4 linked regions of the Homo sapiens genome follow. The protein of the gene in region 1 interacts with the protein of each later gene in a pairwise test. Each region holds a gene or a part of one and is shown on either strand. Other genes may lie near its edges. The genes, in order: NFU1, NOA1, APOC4 and COIL.

Region 1 (5,240 bases):
AGAGACAAGGTTTCACCATTGGCCAGGCTGGTCTCGAATTCCTTACCTCAAGTGATCCACCCACCTCAGCCTCCCAAAGTGTTGGGATTACAGGCATGAGCCACTGCGCCAGGCCAATTTCCTCTCTTCTAATAAACTAATCCTCCATCCAATTCAGCCACTTATTTCATGGCCACATACAAGATCTGCCATTACTGGCATCTCATCCACGATGTCAATTTCCTGTAGCTTCAACTAAAGGGCAGGTTAAGTTGCCTTGCTTATGAAGCAATTCCCAGTGTCTAAATTAAATTCATACATGATATCTCAAGGAATGAATTCTCCAACCCTACTATTTGGTTCAGTGAACCAAAGGATAAAAGTAAAAACTTCAATTCCCAGCACTCACAACTGCTAGAGTTCTTCCTGTTTCCATCACTATCTTAATCTCCTTAATTTGAGGGACTAGAATTCCAGAGATGCAATGCATCACAACTATTTTTCCCATCTTTCCTTTCCCTGTATTTTCTGTTAACTGCAGTCTCTGAATTACTGTAGAAAAATGAGAGAGGAGGCTAAATCACTCTTTTGGCTACCTGAAAAAGCAGTACCCCTAGAGTACAAAAATAATGATGCACACTTCTGGCATGGTACAGATTTTGGATCTCTGAGTCAGAAGCCAGTGGGAGGACCAAAGCAGCTTCTTCTCTTTTCTTCAGCAATTCTGATTGATAAGGTAAAGGCTGGGCATGCTGAGGCAGTTTTTCTAATTTGGCCATCTCCATCTTAACCAATAGAAACTGTGTCCAGATTCTGGGAGTTAGTTTTCAAGTTTTTCACCTTTTTTTTTTTTTTTTTTTTTTTTTTTTTTGAGATGGAGTCTCGCTCCGTCCCCCAGGCTGGAGTGCAGTGGCGTGATCTCAGCTCACTGCCACCTCCGCCTCCCGGGTTCAAGCAGTTCTCCTGCCTCAGCCTCCTAAGTAGCTGGGATTACAGGCGCGTGCCTCCGCGCCCGGCTAATTTTTGTATTTTTAGTGGAGACGGGGTTTCACCATGTTGTTCAGGCTGGTCTCAAACTCCTGACCTCGTGATCTGCCCACCTCGGCCTCCCAAAGTGCTGGGATTATAGGCGTTAGCCACCATACCCGGACATTTTTGATTTCTTTTTTTTGGTCTTAAGCAGTTCTTTGCTACTTAATTGGGGGCTAGTAGCCAGATACCATTTTTAAAACAGACTTGTTTAGCTGTTTCTTAAGCTAAAAACTTCAGTAAAAATAGTTTTAGATATTTCACAAAAAGCTATTTTAGAATATTCTAAAAAGCATTCTGTTTCTTCCTGTATGGAAAAAAGTAAATAAATTAGATGGGGGGAAATGTATTTTAAACTCCTTCACACATATGCAAAGAAAGAGCCATGGGAAATGAGGGACAAAAATAAAAATATCCTTGGATAAAATCCACGTGTACAGAAGATGATTCAAGAGGTTATAAATAACTCATATGAGGTAAAGCAAACATGCAATATTTATATATCATTCTCTGAAGAGCATATTTTATTAATCTTCAAGTTCCTCAGCATATTAATAATAAAAACTTGATATATATTATCAACAAGTCTGACTGTTATGCCCAAAGAAAATCCAGATTATTTTAAGGTGAGTTTGCTTCTTTTTCATCTGATTCATCATCCATAACCTAAAACCAAAAAACAAAGACAATTTAAGAATTAAGAAAATGATTAGATTTTGCTGTTTTCCTGATTTTAATATTACTTCTTTACCTGATACACTCTATAATGAGGCATGACAAGCCAGTAAGAATAAATCTATCAACAGCCCCAAAGAACAAGGTTTGAATCATAACCCGGTATCCTAAAAACATAAAAGCAACCCCATCTCTACTGAAAATACAAAAAATTAGCCAGGCGGGCGCCTGTAGTCCCAGCTACTCGGGAGGCTGAGGCAGGAGGATGGCGTGAACCTGGGAAGCAGAGCTTGCAGTGAGCCGAGATCGCGCCACTGCACTCCAGCGTGGGCAACACAGCGAGACTCTGTCTCAAAAAAAAAATAAAATAAAATAAAAGCAAATTAAATATTTGGAAATTAATTAAAGCATTGATCACTTCTCCTTGTCTCAAAGAGGCTACCCATAGCAGAGTCTCAGCTGGGCAGAAAAGACTATAAATAATTAACTGGGGCCAGGCGCGGTGGCTCACGCCTGTAATCCCAGCACTTTGGGAGGCTGAGGCAGGCAGATCATGAGGGCAGAAGATCAAGACCATCCTGGCTAACACAGTGAAACCCCGTCTCTACTAAAAATACAAAAAATTAGCCGGTCGTGGTGGTGGGCGCCTGTAGTCCCAGGTACCCGGGAGACTAAGGCAGGAGAATGGCATGAACTGGGGAGGTGGAGGTTGCAGTGAGCCTAGTGCCTGGTGATAGAGCACTCCAGCTTGGTGATAGAGCAAGACTCCGTCTCAAAAAAAAAAAAACAATTTAACTGGTATTCTCTAGCCATAAGACTAATGTAAATGACTTTTTCTTTTTTTCAAAACCATCTTATTTACTTAAATATATTCTGTGAAGCTATACCAAATTGTTATTTTAAAAACATTTATTTTTATTAAAATGAATCCCCAAGGAAAGTGAAAAACAAAACAAAACAAAAAAACCCCACCATATTAGGAACTAATTATTTTAGTCTTACTGAGATAAAAGATCATTTTAAGCCTCAGGAAAATGTTACAACAGCTATTATCTTTCCATGAGTTAATGTATTACTAAGATAACAGACTAACTCCATTGGAGAAGGAAAAAGTTACATAAACCTAAGAATGTTTTTTTCTCCTCACCACACCTACTACAATTAGATGCCAATTCAAGTTTCTAATCTGAAGGCCAATTCATCACCCTACCCTGGACAATTGAATAAAAATGTTCCTCAGTCAATCCACCAAAGTATCAACTAACATAATTTTTTAAGGCATATAGATGATAATGGAACAAAGTAAGGTTTTTTTTTTTAAAAAAAATCTAGGCCAGGCACAGTGGCTCATGCCTGTAATCCCAGCACTTTGGGAGGCTGAGGCAGGTGGATCACCTGAGGTCAAGAGTTCAAGACCAGCCCGGTCAACATGGCGAAACCCCCATCTCTACTAAAAATATAAAAATTAGCCAGGCGTGGTGGCGCGCGCCTGTAATCCCAGCTACCTGGGAAGCTAAGGCAGGAGAATCATTTGAACTCGGGAGGTGGAGGCTGCAGTGAGCCAAGATCAAGCCATTGTACTCCAGCCTGGGCAACAAGAGTGAAACTACGTCTCAAAAAAAAAAAAAAAAAAAATCCAGATTCTGGCTCTGATCTGAGACAATCAATAGAAAAAGAATTCTTTCATAGGCTGTCTTTTTGGTTGAGTAAAAATTGGTATTTATTCCCAAGAAATTAATATTTTACATCCAATTTCAACAATACCCAATCCAAAAAATTTTGTCAACCAACTCATATTTTAGGCAGAATTATTCCTTAATTTGGAATAATATTCCCAAATACTTAATACAAAGCATGTATAGGACATTTGTAAGGCACACAGCTAGTTGTTGCAGAGGAACACAAAGACTTGGATATGATTTCAAGTCTCTTAGGGAGCTTCCACGTAAACATAAAGCTAAAACAGATACAGAAAGCTACATAAACATAAAGCAAAAACAGAAGCTTTGGACCTGTCAAAGAAGAACTTAATTCCAAGTGGGGGATGGATAAAAACTTCAAAGAGAAGATGTCATGTACTGGACCAAAACGATGGTGTGGAGGCTAAAGCAACTCCATCTTGGATGCTAATCTGCCACATTGACTACCCTCAGTTCTAGGAATGCCTCTAAGTTTTCTACTTAATTCTGCCTTTAGGTCAAAATAATCTTGATGTTATCCTAAACAAACACATACTTAGCATAAATCTTGCCCTTAAGCAAATTATAGGCTATTAGGCAAATAGCATTCTTGCCTTTTCCAGAGGGGCTGACTTCAATTGTCCTACACATATCTTCTGAAGCATGTATACCCATTCCTCCTGGTATATAAGCCCTGAGTCTAGCGGGTAACAATGCAGGAATCCATCATCTTGCAGCTGCCCGATAAATGGCTTCTGTTCCTCAGTCCCTATTAAATGTTTCTTTCTGACCAACTGGATTTGCCAGCCTCTGTCTTCAGCCTCTCAGCTCCCTAAGACTTTGGGGATAGGTCTATATAGACCTGCTCACTGTGGAACAGATGAATTTTAATACTACCCAAGGATGAGTGATTCCCAATGGAGCCCTTAAGGGCACAGAATTACCTGAGGTGGTCAGGCACGGTGGCTCATGCCTGTAATCCTAGCACTCTGGGAGGCCGAGGCGGGCAAATTGCCTGAGCTCAGGAGTTTGAAATCAGCCTGGGCAACATGATGAAACCCCGTCTCTACTAAAATACAAAATACAAAAAATGGTGGCATGTGCCTGTAATCCCAGCTACTCATGAGGCTGAGGGATGGGAACTGCTTCAACCTGGGAGGTGGAGGTTGCAGTGAGCCGAGATAGCGTGTCACTGCACTCCAGCCTGGGCAACAGAACAAGATTCTGTCTCCAAAAAAAAAAAAAAAAAGAATGAATTACCTGAAATTCTGTGGGTTGGAAATTTCTAATTTCCACACATCCCTTCACTCCTTGATAATCTCTCTCCATAAGGCCATGCTTTTTGGTTGAGAATCACTGCAGTGAGACTCATTATTACTGATGACAAGGTGCTGTGTTATACTCCTTAGGTATGTTGGCAAAAAAAAAAATGTTGATATTGTGCTACACGTAAAGCTCTAGAATTCTACTCAGTATAACAACAAACTATGATTTCTTAATGGGCTTCTTGCTTGCATATTTAAGAATACATAGATTAGGCCAGTTGTGTTAATCCTTAATCCCAGCATTTTGGGAGGATCACCTGAGGCCAGGAATTCAAGACCAACTTGGGCAACATAGCAAGACCCCGTCTCTACAAAAAAAAAAAAAAAAAAATTGGTAAATATGATGTAGTAGAGTTCTTCCACTAAAGATTTCTAAATCTCATCTATAAAACACTGTGTTACATTTTAAACCTTTTTCATAATTTTTGTGCAATCAGGGCAGCAATATGCCCTCTGAGTCTCTGTAGCCTTATGTGCAAAATGGGAATGACTTAATGCACTGTGTCATTAGAAGATGAAATGAGCAAAAATGCCTGGCACATAGTAGGTTCTC
Region 2 (4,930 bases), on another chromosome or scaffold:
CAATTCATGTGAAACTATGACTTCTTTGACAGACCCAATACTATTTTTGAAAAAAGTCTATTATTAAAAATTAAAAGGAAATACTATCTGCTTTAATTGTCTCTGTGTAAAGTTAGGTTTAAAATATTAACATTTTATGTGTTCTGATGAAATATATAAGGGTGCAAGCCTGGTGTGGTGGCTCATGCCTATAATCCCAGCATTTTGGAAGGCCGAGGTGGGTGAATCCCTTGAGCTCAAGTTTGAGACCAGCCTGGGAAACATGGCAAAACCCTGTCTCTATAAAAAATACAAAAATTAGCTGGGTGTGGTGATGTGTGCCTGTAGTCCCGACTACTTGCGGGGCTGGGGTGGGATGATCATTGGAGCCCAGGAGGTTGAGGCCACAGTGAGCCGTGACTGTACCACTGCACTCCAGTCTGGGCAACAGAGAGAGATGCTGTTTCAAAAAAAAAAAACAAAAAAACAAAAAAACAAAAAACCAACCCCAAAAGCAAAAAACCAACAACCTCCCAAAACGAAATATATAAGGGTTCTAAGTGTGTAAGGCAAAATTTCTAACAAAGTATGAGCAAACACAAAACCCAAGAAATGTGCTATAGTAATGGCACACAGTTGTATTGTGTTGTTGGACATATCCATATCCATGTTTCATTTTCCTTTTTCTCTTCACTTTAGCAAAATGGAGAGCAATTCTATAGACACTCCAAAATCCCTAGATGCTATATAAACGAATACCAAACAAAAACGTGTATGCATAAAAACACACATATCATGGTATACAAAGTGTGGAATTAATTTAACGCCTATAACCCTGTACCTAAAGGTTTGACTTTATCCCATAGGTTTGACTCTATCCCATAGAATAGGGATAGTATCTTGTCTTAAATGCCAAGCTGTGTAGGGTACTCAATTGAAAACGTAAGTTTTCAAGACCTAGCACTTTTTTGGGGGGATGAGGGAGTAGGGCATTTCTTTTCCCCAAGTTTTTTTTTTTTTTTTGATATGGAGTCTCGCCCCATCACCCAGGCTGGAGTGCAGTGGTGCAATTTCAGCTCACTGCAGCCTCCGCCTCCCAGGTTTAAGTGATCTTCCTGCCTCAGCCTCTCTAGTAGCTGGGATTACAAGTGTGTGCCACCACGCCCAGCTAATTTTTGTATTTTTAGTAGAGATGGGGTTTCACCACGTTGACCAGGCGGGTCTTGATCTCCTGGCCTCAAGTGATCAGCCTGCCTCAGCCTCCCACAGTGCTGGAATTACAGGTGTGAGCCACTGTGCCCAGCCATCCCCAAGTTTTTATTACAGAAATTTTTAAACATAAAAACAAATTAAACCCAATACAATCATGGCTTAGTTATCAACATTTTGTCAGTCGTGTTCATACATCTGCTTCCTTAAAGTGAATCCCAATATTTTAAAATCATTTTTTAATAGTACAGACTTTTCTTACCTGCAGGAAATCTATGCGGCCTATAGCACCCAAAAACAGAACCATTCCTGGTTTAAGCACAAAAGTTCTTGGAACAATGGACTGTGTTGGCAAAACAATATTTACTTCTTTTTCTGTTAGAAGATTTAAAATCTGTGAAGCAAATGGCAGATTTTTAAGAAAATACTTTTATTGAAAATATGATATATTATGATTTACCCGTAAAATAAAAAGTGATGAAAAATATGCCAGACTTCAAAATAAACCAAATTATGTCAGAGTTTGCTATGCATCAAATTTATATAGATTCTTCCTGTCTAAATTAATTTCAATCTGATGGCTCTACCCTTGTTTTACAACTTAATCTACAGTAATGGCAAAATAACTTTATAGGTGTATGAGACTTTCCTATGTCAGCAGCATTCCCTAAATGTCAAAATTAATGTGAACCTGAAAACATGTTGATTCAATACCAAGATAGAAAATATATGCTCTCCTTATCAAGGCTTGTGGGCAGTAGCAATTTCCGCTTAAAGTAATGGTATACGTGACCTTATGTCCTAGTGGTAAGTATGCATGCATTAAATGCAAAATGGTCACCCCATTCTAGGAGCAAGTAAAGTGGCTGAAGAACCTCTTTCTAAATTCTGGTCTTCAATTTCCTTATTTCTCCCAAATATTCAGCAGAGAATGAGAAAAAGTTATAAATCCCCTATGCTTATAACACAGAGGATTTATAATTTATCCCTATGATTTATAATAAATCCCTTCTAAGGATGACAAGTTCCTAGAGAGACTAGAGAAAAATAGAAAAGGAAAGACAGAAGTACAAGATTCTGCAAAGATTTAAGGAATCAAAATCTGGTTAAAAAAGAATAAAGAAGGTACAAATTGGACACAAAACTTGTAAACTTCTTTCTTAACAAGAGGCTGGGCGCGGTGGCTCACGCCTGTAATCCCAGCACTTTGGGAGGCTAAGGCGGGCAGATCACCTGAGGTCAGGAGTTTGAGACCAGCCTGAACAACATGGAGAAAGCCCATCTCTATTAAAAATACAAAATTAGCCGGGCGTGGTGGCGTGCACCTGTAATCCCAGCTACTCGGGAGGCTGAGGCAGGAGAATCACTTGAATCCGGGAGGCGGAGGTTGTGGTGAGCCGAGATTGCACCACTGCCCTCCAGCCTGGGCCATAGAGCAAGACTCCGTCTCAAAGGAAAAAAAGAGAATAACAAGAAAATAAAAAATAGAAATGATACATAGCAGCTCACAAAAAAATAATAAGGGGGCTGCAGATAGTTTTCTTCATTATTTGTGTTTGAAAAGGCACATTAAAAGCCATTTGCAGGTCAGCCATGGTGGCTCATGCCTGTAATCCCAGGACTTTCAGAGGCAGCGGCAGGCAGATCACTTGAGCTCAGGAGTTTTTTTCTTTTTTTGAGACGGAGTCTTGCTCTGTCACCCAGGCTGGAGTGCAATGGTGTGATCTTGGCTCACTGCAACTTCTGCCTCCCGGGTTCAAGCAATTCTCCTGTCTCAGTCTCCCAAGTAGCTGAGATTACAGACGTGCGCCACCATGCTTGGCTAATTTTTTTGGTATTTTTAGTAGAGACGGGGTTTTGTCATGTTGGCCAGGCTGGTCTCGAACTCCTGACCTCAAGTGATCCACTTACCTTGGTCTTCCAAAGTGCTGGGATTACAGGTATGCACCATTGTGCCCAGCTGAGCTCAGGAGTTTGAGACCAGTCTGGGCAACACGGCAAAACCTCACCTCTATGAAAAATACAAAAATTAGCTGGGGTGGCGTGTGTCTGTAGTTCCCAGCTACCCTGGAGGCTGAGGTGGAGGATTGCTTGAGCCAGGGAGGCAGAAGTTACAGTGGGCCAAGATTCCACCACTGCACTCCAGCCTAGACCAGACTGGGCAACATAGCGAGGTCCTGTCTCTACAAAAACTAAACAATTAGTTGGGCATGGTGGTATGTACCTGTGGCCCTAGCTACTTGGGAGGCTGAAGTGGGAGAATTGGTTGAGCCCAGGACTTTGAAGTTACTTGATCACGCCACTGCATTCCAGCCTGGGCAACAGGGGAAACCTTGTCTCTCTTTTTTGTTGAGACAGGGTTTCACTCTGTTGCCCAGGCTGGGCTGCAGTGGCATGATCTCGGCTCACTGCAACCTCTGCCTCCCAATAAGTGTATCAAGTGATTCTTGTGCCTCAGCCTCCTCAATAGCTGGGATTACAGGCATGTACCACCATGCCCAGCTAATTTTTTGTATTTTTAGTAGAGATACAGTTTTGGCATGTTGCCCAGGCTGGTCTCAAACTCCTGGGCTCAAGCAATCCTCCCACCTCGGCCTCCCAAAGTGCTGGGACTACAGGTGTGAGGCACTGTGCACAGCCTGAGTCTTAATACTTTCATTTCACAACAGAGATCCTTGGTTCAGTCTGGGAAACCCTGGTTTAAGACATCAAATAAGTTTATCTGTAAACTAACAGAGAAGCAAACTACCAGTGCTGACAGACGTTTATATCTAAAAATTTGGGGTTCTCATTCTGCTGTCTAGAGTATTTTGCAAATTCTTGCCTTTCTGACACAACTATTTAATAGAGGATATATGACTGAAGTAACTGCTATGCCTGATCTAATAGCATCTGAAAGGGAAGAATTAGTCTGGGCGTAGTGGCTCCCATCCACAATCCTAGCACTTTGGGAGGCTGAAGTGGGTGGATTACCTGAGGTGAGGGGTTTGAGACCAGCCTGGCCAACATGGCGAAACCCTGTCTCTATTAAAAATACAAAAAGTAGCTGGGTGTGGTGGTACATGCCTCTAATACCAGCTACTCGAGAGGCTGAGGCAGGACAATCGCTTGAACCCAGGCGGCAGAGGTTGCAGTGAGCCAAGATCATTGCGCCACTGCACTCCAGCCTGGGCAAGAGAGTCAGACTCCATCTCAAAAAAAAAAAAAAAAAAAAAAAAAAGTATGGTGGGGGAAGAATTAGTTCATTAAGCTAAAGTGACAGAATATTATTAGAAAGCAGCTCTGAACTTTTGGACTGCTAAGGAAGAAAAGATGGCATGAGCAATTATTCCAGGAGAGCAATAAAATTTAAAAGGTGTGTATGATTCAATGACAGGGGACACCAAATAGAATACAATTCTGAGAATGTAACTATAAGTGTTCCTGATGAGGCCAAGAAAAGTACCTAAGAAACCAATGTGGTTTTGTAGGGAGATACAGAGATAATTAGAAAATCGGAAACTGGTCAGTAACCAGATTCGAAGGAAATGATTAATGAATCTGTTGTGAGGCTGTATCCTGGATGCACATTTGAGTCAATCAATGATCTGAATGAAGATCCAAACTGCAAATATAAAAAGTAATGAGATTGAATGAATATTTAACAGAGTAAGATATAGGCTGAATTTAACAAGACAAAGTCAAAGTTACCTATGAGGCCCAAAGTTGTCCATGAGCAATTGGATAAAAGAGAGGCATAGGG
Region 3 (5,497 bases), on another chromosome or scaffold:
GGGCCTCTGGGATGGACAGGATTCTGCCAAGGCAGACATCTGGGTCAAGACAGTCCTGCACAGTTGTTCAGGTTGTGGCCAAGGTTGCGTTTGCAGATTTGCCATGTAAAAATACAGGATGCTCAGTTACATTTGAATTTCAGATTAATAGCAAAAAAAACTTTTTGGTATAATTCTGAAATATTTCATGGGACATATTTATACTAAAACGTCATGCACTGTTGATTTGAAATTCAAATGTAATTGGGCCTCCTCTATTTCGTCTGGCAAGCGTAGACAAAAGAATCCAGTCCAGGCCAGGCGCAGTGGCTCAAGCCTGTAATCCCAGCACTTTGGGAGGCCGAGGCGGGCGGATCACGAGGTCAGGAGATCGAGACCATCCTGGCTAACACGGTGAAACCCCGTCTCTACTAAAAATACAAAAAATTAGCTGGGCGTGGTGGCGGGTGCCTGTAGTCCCAGCTACTCGGGAGGCTGAGGCAGGAGAATGGCGTGAACCTGGGAGGCGGAGCTTGCAGTGAGCCGAGATCGCGCCACAGCACTCCAGCCTGGGCGACAGAGCCAGACTCTGTCTCAAAAAAAAAAAAAAGAATCCAGTCCATAGTCCCCTGAGCCATGTGCCCTGGGGTGCAGCTGGGTCCTTCAGGAGAAAAATGCTCTATTTCTGGCACTGGGACCGAGCCTGATGTGGGTTTTTTGTTGGTTTTTGTTGTTGTTATTGTTTTTGAGACAAGGTCTCGCTCCACCACACCCGGCTAATTTTTGTATTTTTAGTAGAGACGGGGTTTCACTACGTTGGCCAGGCTGGTCTTGAACTCCTGACCTCAAGTGAGCCGCCTGCCTCGGCCTCCCAAAGTGCTGGGATTACAGGTGGGAGCCACCGCCCTGGCCCTGGGCCTGATGTTGATGACCTCCTACTATGTGCACCTGCAGCTCTCCTGCATAGGCCTCAGCCGTCCTGCATGAGGACACTGGGAGGCAGGTGCTCCCTATCAACCCCGTGTTACAGTTGAACAAACTGAGCCCCAGAAAAGAAAACGTATTTGCCCAGGTCACACGGTGAAGAAGTGAGGGATTCGAAGCCCAGGTCCATCTGAAGCCAGAGTCACCCAGAGGAGAAAGAGTTGGAATTGAGAACTCAAGGAATGCTTGGAAGTGATCGGGCTCGAGCCCACCTAGGAAGAAACAGAGGCTGGAGACATGAGACTGTGTTGCTATTTCCTCTCATCAACCCTTGGGCCCTATTGAGGCCCTACCACAAGCCTGGCCCTGCAGCCCAGTGACTAGGAGAAATTAGACACAAGATAATAATAACAGCAATGATCTTTTTTTTTTTTCTGAGACGGAGTCTTGCTCTTTCGCCCAGGCTGGACTGCAGTGGCGCGATCTCGGCTCAATGCAAGCTCCACCTCCCAGGTTCACGCCATTCTCCTGCCTCAGCCTCCCGAGTAGCTAGGACTACAGGCGCCTGCCACCACGCCTGGCTAATTTTTCATATTTTTAGTAGAGATGGGGTTTCACCGTGTTAGCCAAGATGGTCTCAATCTCCTGACCTCGTGATCCGCCTGCCTCGGCCTCCCAAAGTGTTGGGGTTACAGGCATGAGCCACCGCGCCTGGCCAACAGCAATGATCTTTGAGCACCTATATTGCCAGTCTCCACGGTAAGAGCTTTCTTCATTTTTTGTTTTGTTTTGTTTCAAGACAGAGTCTTGCTCTGTCACCCAGGCTGGAGTGCAGTGGTGTGATCGCGGCTCACTGCAGCCTTCACTTCCCGGGTTCAAGCCATTCTCCTGCCTCAGCCTCCCAAGTAGCTGGGATTACAGGCACGCATCACTACTTCTGGCTAATTTTTGTATTTTTAGTAGGGACAGGGTTTTTCACCATGTTGGCCAGGTTGGTCTCAAACTCCTGGCCTCATATGATCTGCCCACCTCGGCCTCCCAAAGTGCTGGGATTACAGGCGTGAGCCACTGCGCCTTTCTTTGTATTTGTTCAAGTAATATACTGAAATATGTACTGTGCCTCCCACTTTATGGAGGAGGAAACTGAGGCCAGCAAATGAGGCTGTCATGGGAGGTGGAGACAGGATTTGAACCTGCCTCAGTGCAGGAGGCTCAAGAGCCTCTGTCTTCTCTCAGGGCACTGTGTGGGAGGGTGAGAAGGAGGGAGGCCCACAGAGGCATGACCTCTGATTGCCACTGTCACCTGGGCCCTGCTCTCTGAAGTCTCTGCCAAGCGGGGAGGTGGCCGGGGGAGGGCCCTGCTCTGTGCAGCCTCCCCTCCCCCGGCCCGCAGAGTTGAGCACAGAGGGACAGAGGCACGGAACCCCCAGAAATGTCCCTCCTCAGAAACAGGCTCCAGGCCCTGCCTGCCCTGTGCCTCTGCGTGCTGGTCCTGGCCTGCATTGGGGGTGAGAAGAAGTGGGTGGAGGGATGTGGGGCCCACACCTGGTGGGTGTGAGTGTGGCTGTGTGTCCTGTGGCTCTGTAGCCACGTGAGACATGAGTACGGAGTGTGTGCGTTTCATGGCGTGCGTATGCATGTGCGTGTCGGGGAGTGTGTGTGTCGGTGGCTGAGAGTGAAGTGTGAATGTCACATTGGTACAAACTGGGATCATCTGTGTGTGTGCACGTGCGTGCGTGGAAGTGGGAGTATGCAGTCGTGGTAAAAAAGTGCATGTCTGTGTGCATATGTGTATTTGTGTGCACCTGTCTCTCTGTGGGGTATGTGTGTGCAAAATATTTGAGTGTGTGGACATGTGTGAGGGGGTGAGTGTGTGCTGGTGTGTACGTCTGTGTTTTGCATATGCATTTTTTTTTTTTTTTTTGAGACGGAGTCTCACTCTGTCACCCAGGCTGGAGTGCAGTGGTAGCAGTGGTGCGATCTTGGCTCACTGCATCATCCGCCTACCCGTTTCAAGGGATTCTCCTGCCTCAGTCTTCAGAGTATTTGGGACTACAGACACACGCCACCATGCCTGGCTAATTTTTTTTTTTTGAGACGGAGTCTCGCTCTGTTACCCAGGCTGGAGTGCAGTGGCGTGATCTTGGCTCACTGCAACGTCCGCCTCCCGGGTTCACGCCATTCTCCTGCCTCAGCCTCCCGAGTAGCTGGGACTACAGGAGCCCACCACCACGCCTGGCTAATTTTTTGTATTTTTACTAGAGACGGGGTTTCGCCGTGTTAGCCAGGATGGTCTCCATATCCTGACCTCGTGATCCGCCTGCCTCGGCCTTCCAAAGTGCTAGGATTATAGGCGTGAGCCACTGCGCCTGGCCAATGCCTGGCTAATTTTTTTATATTTTTGGTAGAGACAGGGTTTTGCCATGTTGCCCAGGCTGGTCTTGAAATCCTGACCTCAGGTGATCCGCCCGCCTTGGCCTCCCAAAGTGCTGGGATTACAGGCATGAGCCACCACGCCCGGCCATGTACTTTATGTTAAAATGGGATCATATTCTAGATCAGCATTATCCAGTAGAAATTTAAATTTTTAATACAGGGCCAGGCACGGTGGCTCATGCCTGTAATCCCAGCACTTTCGGAGGCCGAGGCGGGTGGATCGCAAGGTCAGGAGATTTGAGATCATCCTGGCTAACAGATGGGTAAAAACCCATCTCTACTAAAAATACAAAAAATTAGCCATGCATGGTGGCATGCGCCTGTAGTCCCAGCTACTCGGGAGGCTGAGGCCGGAGAATCACTTGAACCCGGGAGGCAGAGGTTGCAGTGAGCCGAGATCGCGCCACTGCATTCCAACCTGGGTGACAGAGCGAGACTCCGTCTGAAAAAAAAAAAAAATTTAACACGTATGTAGACAATGTGCAAGGCACCATTCCATGTGCATCGTATGTAGTAACTCTTAATTCTCACGATAACCCTGAGGTAGATATTATTACCCCGTTCTACAAAAGGAGAAACAGTCCTGGGGAGACAGGATAAGTCACCGGCCAAGGCACACAGCTAGCTACATGTGGCCCCCGCGTGACGGCTGGTCTCTGTAGGCGAGGCTTTGTCCAGATGCGTGGGTAGAAGGTCTGGCCCGGAAAGAGGAACTGACAGCAAGGCTAAGCCAATGTCTGCCCCTGGGGGCAGAAAGTCACCTCCTGCTCTCCCTCCACTGTCCACAGAGGTAGCTCAGACAGGGTGGGGGTCACAGGAGAACGAAGGGAGAAGGGGGTAGTTCCTGGGCAGCAAAATCAGGTGGTGAAGGGAGGCATCAGAGGATGGCAATTAGAGAGGCCATTAGAGGGGAACCACAGGCAGACAGGGTGACAGGAGGGACTACTGACACAAGGTGAAGAGATGGCCCAGCCGGACGGGGTGGCTCACATCTGTAATCCCAGCATTTTGGGAGCCCGAGGTGGGTGGATCACTTGAGGTCAGGAGTTCGAGGCCCCAACATGGCAAAACCCCATCTCTTCTAAAAATACAAAAATTAGCCGGGCATGATGGCAGATGCCTGTAATCCCTGCTACTCGGGAGGCTGAGGCAGGAAAATTGCCTGAATCCAGGAGGTGGAGGTTGCAATGAGACGAGATCATGACACTGCACTCCACCCTGGGCAACAGAGCAAGAGACTGACTCTGTCTCATAAAAAAAAAGAAAAAAGAAAAAAAAAAAGAGATGGCTGATGGTTAAAGAGGGGTTAGCGGTCAGGGGACACATAAGGGTAAAGGCAGGAGGCAAGAGGACTGGCAGGGGGCTGCCCCTGGGCCACCGGGAGCGACACAGGATGAGCATGGAGGGAAAGGGAGAAGGGGATTCTAGGGTCCCAGCCTACCCAAGTTGCCCTCTGGTTCCACCTAGCATGCCAGCCAGAGGCCCAGGAAGGAACCCTGAGCCCCCCACCAAAGCTAAAGATGAGTCGCTGGAGCCTGGTGAGGGGCAGGATGAAGGAGCTGCTGGAGACAGTGGTGAACAGGACCAGAGACGGGTGGCAATGGTTCTGGTGAGGGTGTGCTGGGCTGGGTGGTGGGAGGGGACTCCTGGGTCTGAGGGAGGAGGGGCTGGGGCCTGGACCCCTGAGTCTCAGGGAGGAGGAAAGGGTGGGAGTGGGGCTGTGACCCCTAGGTCTGGGAGGAGTGGAGGGTTAGAGCTGAGAGCAGGAACTCCTAGGTCACAGAGAGGAGCGGATAAATGGGGCAGAGAACACCTGGGGAGAGCTGGGGCCTCCACTGTGATGTCCTCTCTCCTGTAGGAGCCCGAGCACCTTCCGGGGCTTCATGCAGACCTACTATGACGACCACCTGAGGGACCTGGGTCCGCTCACCAAGGCCTGGTTCCTCGAATCCAAAGACAGCCTCTTGAAGAAGACCCACAGCCTGTGCCCCAGGCTTGTCTGTGGGGACAAGGACCAGGGTTAAAATGTTCATAAAAGCCAGGTGTGGTTGTGGCGGGTGCCTGTAGTCCCAGCTACTCAGGAGGCTGAGGTAGGATGATGGCTTGAGCCCAGGAGTTCGAGACCAGCCTGGGCAACACAGCGAGATCTCTTGGGGGT
Region 4 (4,930 bases), on another chromosome or scaffold:
TTGATTTAATCTGGATTGATGCCTTGGAAGACTTAAAATCTTTATAGAAACCTTTCCTCAAGGCTGGGCTTGGTGGCTCCCACCTGTAATCCCAGCACTTTGGGAGGCCAAGGTGGGTGGATCACGAGATCAGGAGATTGAGACCATCCTGGCTAACACAGTGAAACCCCGTCTCTAGTAAAAATACAAAAAAAAAAATTAGCGGGGCATGGTGGCGGGTGCCTGTAGTCCCAGCTACTCAGGAGGCTGAGGCAGGAGAATGGCGTGAACCCGGGAGGCAGAGCTTGCAGTTAGCTGAGATCACACCACTGCACTCCAGCCTGGGTAACAGAGCGAGACTCCATCTCAAAAAAAAAAAAAAAAAAAATCTTTCCTCAAAAGCAGGCTGGAAGAATCAGTTAATGAAGGGATCTGGTGGGTTAGTTCTAGGTCGTTGGTGTTTTGTTTTTTATCTTCTTAGGCACTTACTATCTCCTATGGATGAGGTGATCATGTAATTTATCACCTGAATCAGGATACTTGTGAGTCAAAGGGATGCTATTAATAGTTATGCTGGAAAGATGTACAGACCTGTCTTGAACAAACCAGGGTGTTTTGTCACCCTACCATAGAAAACATTTAATTGTGTGATATATGAGGAAATGGAAATGAATATTGTATTGATACATCCCACAACCTCTATAAATTGTAATTCTAGATGATACTGATTTTTAAAAATTGCTTATTAATGGCCAGGCACAGTGGCTCATGCCTGTAATCCCAGCACTTTGGGAGGCCAAGGTAGGTGAATCACTTGAGGTCAGGAGTTCGAGACCAGCCTGGCCAACATGGCAAAACCCCATCTCTACTAAAAATATAAAAATGAGCCTGGCATGGTGGCGTGCACCTGTAGCCCCAGCTACTCAGGAGACTGAGGCACAAGAATCACTTGAACGCAGTAGGTGGGGGTTGCAGTGAGCTGAGATCATGCCACTGCACTCCAGCCTGGGTGACAAAACGAGACTCTTAAAAAAAATTGCATATTAAATTGGTATTAGTTGTCATAGTTATTAATGTTGGAAGGTGTTTTGCCTACTTTAGTTGGCAAAATTTTTTGAAGATTTTTGAAATTGCTTTCAAAAACATTTTAAGAATGAAAATTGGTCCTACTTTTTTGCTTTGACCTCAAACGCAGTTATCCAGCTTGATCATCTGCTTTATTCATTAACCTTGTCTCCAAAAATTAAATTGGTTCAATTCTGTACTAAAAAATGTAGTCTCCCAAGCCCCTGATTCCCTGTTGAGTCTGGTTTTAAAAAAAACTGTTGACTGTGCTCAGAAATTCCAGGTAGAGGCAGGAGGAACTGGTTGCTTGGCCTCTCAGTATATACCCCCGGAGGCTACCATGTGTCTCCCCATCGCCCACGTGCATGGGCAGTGCATCCTCTTGATGCATTAGAAAATCAGCTCCCACAGCTGGAGACCTGGGAGAAGGAGAATTGGGATCTTAACAGTGATAAAGTGCCTTCTGGTTTCTCCTGGGGGGTTGTGATCACTGTTTTAGAAGGGTTCTAAAAGCATCAGGAACCGAGGCTGCACCATTAGGATATATCTAGTCTCTCCTGATGAATGCTGTGATGGTCAGTGCTCACTTGAATATATCAGCCTGGTGTGATTTTTTTCTCCTTTTCCCTTATTCAGTCACTTTTGGTTCCCTGGTGTAATCTTTACTTTCATCGAGTTATTTAAGATAGTGTCTGCCATTTATGATTTAAATGTTTTATTTTGCCTCTAAAGATATTTCTGTATATTCACATAAAGTGTTTATCAGTCCACCTGTTTTTATTTTCTCTATATGTGGATTTATTTCTAAATTTTTCAACTGAGATAAAATTCACATAACATAAAATTCAACATTTTAACCATTTTAAAGTCTACAATTCAGTGGTTTTTAGTATATTCACAGTGTTTTACATGTTGATTTTGACTTGGACTTTTATTTTTGAAAGGAAGGAAGAATATTAAGCCACAATCCAGAGACCCAGCAAGTAGATATAGAAATTCTTTCATCCTTACCTGGTGAGTCTTTTAGAAAATAATTTGAAAATGTAGGCTCTATCTACAGTGGTTTATAAATAGCTTTTATACACAGGAGATGTTCTCTTCCTTGGCCTCCATATAACTGGCGCTCCCCACTTCTTTCAGCACACTTTAGCCCTGGGGGCTCATAAGAGATGTTGGATATATTCCAAAGCTGTTGGGCTAGTTCTTATTACTGTAATTATATAATTTCATAAAAGATTATATGAACTGATGAAAATCGATTATAAAAAGAATTATTCCTAGGAAGCCTAAGTTGAATGCTGACTCAGGAAATGCTATGAAATTATGGATGAGTGGGTCAGCTATAAAAGATTGGGAGGAATTTTGTAAAAACTGAGGAAGATTCTGCACTTAGATTGCCTTGCAAATTTTTGCAATCTTGCCTTATTTAAGAAAAACCCAGGCTGGGCACGGTGGCTCACACCTGTAATCCCTGCACTTTGGGAGGCCAAGGTTGGTGGATCACTTGAGGTCAGGAGTTTGAGACCATCCTGGCCAACATGGTGAAACCCTGTCTCTACTAAAAATACAAAAATTAGCCGGGCGTCATGGCACACGCCTGTAATCCCACCTACTGGAAAGGTTGAGGCAGGAGAATCGCTTGAACCCGGGAGGTGGAGGTTGCAGTGAGCCGAGATAGTGCAACTGCCTTCCAGACTGAGTGACAGAGCAAGACTTAGTCTCAAAAAATATTTTAAAAACCCCCAAACTGTAAATTGTGGAAATTGCAGACAATACAATGGTATGGTTTATTAAAAAAAGAGCTCTATTCAGTGAACTCATAAGACCTACTCAGCTCTATTTCAAAAGATTGTCAAATGAATATACTTTTGTATATTAAGTCAAAACAAAATGTCTGAAGTGTGTGTATACATACACTTTCACATATCATTTTAAATGGTTGCTGGATTTATCTCTGATGAACCCCACCTGGTACTGGAACTGAATGCGTGGAATAAGAGGGCTTTTATAATATGTAGCTTAACTTGGGGTGTACTGTAGGGGTCCCTGGCCAGAGGGCAGGGGAGATTCCTTTTCCTTTAGAAGATCCTAAAGCAATTAATTGTTTTCCTTTTTTTTTTGACAGAGTCTCACTCTATCGCCCAGGCTGGAGTGTGGTGGCACAATCTTGGCTCACTGCAGCCTCCGCCTCCCAGGTTCAAGTGATTCTCATGCCTCAGCTTGCAGAGTAGTTGGGACTACAGGCACACACCACCATGTCCAGCTAATTTTTGTATTTTTAGTAGAGATGGATTTTGACATGTTGGCCAGGTTGGTCTTGAATTCTTGGCCTCAAGCAATCCACCTGCCTTGGCCTCCCAAAGTGCTGAGACTACAGGTGTGAGCCACTGTGCCCAGCCTGTTTTCTGTTTGTTTGTTTGTTTGTTTGTTTGTTTATTTTTGAGACGGAGTGTTGCTGTCGCCCAGGCTGGAGTGCAGTGGCGCTATCTTGGCTCACTGCAAGCTCTGCCTCCCAGGTTCGCACCATCCTCCTGCCTCAGCCTCCCGAGTAGCTGGAACTACAGGCGCTGGCCGCCATGCCCGGCTAATTTTTTGTATTTTTAGTAGAGACGGGGTTTTACCATGTTAGCCAGGATGGTCTCGATCTCCTGACCTCGTGATCCACCCACCTTGGCCTCCCAAAGTGTTGAGGTTACAGGCATGAACCACCGCACCTGGCCTTCTGTTTATTTTTAGATAAGGGATTGAATAAAAGATTCAGCTAACAGAAATCAGTCGAAAGAGTTTTTGAACAAAGTTCGTTTATGATATTAAGTAAATGTTTATATATAACTTACACTGGGTTCCTACCTTTCTTTTTTTTTTGAGATGGAGTCTCACTCTGTTGTCCAGGCTGGAGTGCAGTGGGCGATCTCGGCTCAGTGCAAGCTCCGCCTCCCGGGTTCACGCCATTCTCCTGCCTCAGCCTCCCGAGCAGCTGGGACTACAGGCACCCGCCACCACACCTGGCTAATTTTTTGTATTTTTAGTAGAGATGGGGTTTCACTGTGTTAGCCAGGACGGTCTCGATCTCCTGACCTCGTGATCCTCCCACCTCAGCCTCCCAAAGTGCTGGGATTACAGGCATGAGCCACCGTGCCTGGCCAGGTTTCCAACCTTTCTTCTGATGAGATTTCATTTATAGAAATCCCCTTTCTTAGGAACGGTGGACAGAAAAGTTTGTCCACTGTCAAATTCTGTGCATACAGCCTGATCAGTGCTTGTCAGGTGATTAATAGTGATGACATCCACTTAGAACTTTTCTTCTTTAGGGCATCAAGAAATGGCTTCGGGGGCGAAGGTGGGAGGATCACTTGAGCCCAGGAGTTCAAGACCAGCCTGGGCAGCATAGTGAGACTCTGTCGTAAAAAAAAAAAACAAAACATAGCTGAGTGTGGTGGTACATGCTTGTAGTCCTCGCTACTTGAGAGGCTGAGGTGGGAGGATCACTTGAGCCCAGGAGGTCGAGGCTGCAGTGAGTCATGATTGCGTCACTGCACTCCAGGCTGAGTGAGCAAGACCCTGTCTCAAAAGCAAAAAAGAAAGAAAGAAATGGATTTATCTGTTCTCTAATAGCAATGTCACTTGTCCTTGATGTGGTGGTTCTGATATACATATATTTCAGTTACCCTGGTTTAGTTAAGTAATACTAGTCCCCCAGCAACATTGCATATGTTAACTGTAAGTGCATGAAGTACTGCTAGCTCTTTAGTCCACATATCACTATATAACATAAATAACAGATACGCGTCATGATCCATTACCAGTCAAGTCAGTACTTTCAGAGTCCGTCAGTGACTGGTCACTGTGCATCTGTTATTCAGTTCACATACAGAGCAGAGCATGC

The links.
Region 2: the proteins of NFU1 (region 1) and NOA1 interact in a two-hybrid assay, tested with the Homo sapiens proteins (one large-scale study listed by IntAct).
Region 3: the proteins of NFU1 (region 1) and APOC4 interact in binary tests that used the Homo sapiens proteins (3 or more experiments, as listed by UniProt).
Region 4: the proteins of NFU1 (region 1) and COIL interact in binary tests that used the Homo sapiens proteins (3 or more experiments, as listed by UniProt).

Annotation. Positions count from the first base shown.
Region 1 is NC_000002.12:69,394,617-69,399,856, forward strand, and holds the end of NFU1 (NFU1 iron-sulfur cluster scaffold homolog, mitochondrial), read right to left. Parts: intron 1,675-5,240; coding exon 1,630-1,674; 3' UTR 1,510-1,629; downstream 1-1,509. UniProt on the Homo sapiens protein: Iron-sulfur cluster scaffold protein which can assemble [4Fe-4S] clusters and deliver them to target proteins.
Region 2 is NC_000004.12:56,966,934-56,971,863, forward strand, and holds part of NOA1 (nitric oxide-associated protein 1), read right to left. Parts: intron 1,583-4,930; coding exon 1,451-1,582; intron 1-1,450. UniProt on the Homo sapiens protein: Involved in regulation of mitochondrial protein translation and respiration. Plays a role in mitochondria-mediated cell death. May act as a scaffolding protein or stabilizer of respiratory chain supercomplexes. Binds GTP.
Region 3 is NC_000019.10:44,939,943-44,945,439, forward strand, and holds the start of APOC4 (apolipoprotein C-IV precursor), read left to right. Parts: upstream 1-2,294; 5' UTR 2,295-2,335; coding exon 2,336-2,411; intron 2,412-4,806; coding exon 4,807-4,948; intron 4,949-5,197; coding exon 5,198-5,363; 3' UTR 5,364-5,497. UniProt on the Homo sapiens protein: May participate in lipoprotein metabolism.
Region 4 is NC_000017.11:56,943,570-56,948,499, reverse strand, and holds part of COIL (coilin), read left to right. Parts: intron 1-1,988; coding exon 1,989-2,058; intron 2,059-4,930. UniProt on the Homo sapiens protein: Component of nuclear coiled bodies, also known as Cajal bodies or CBs, which are involved in the modification and assembly of nucleoplasmic snRNPs.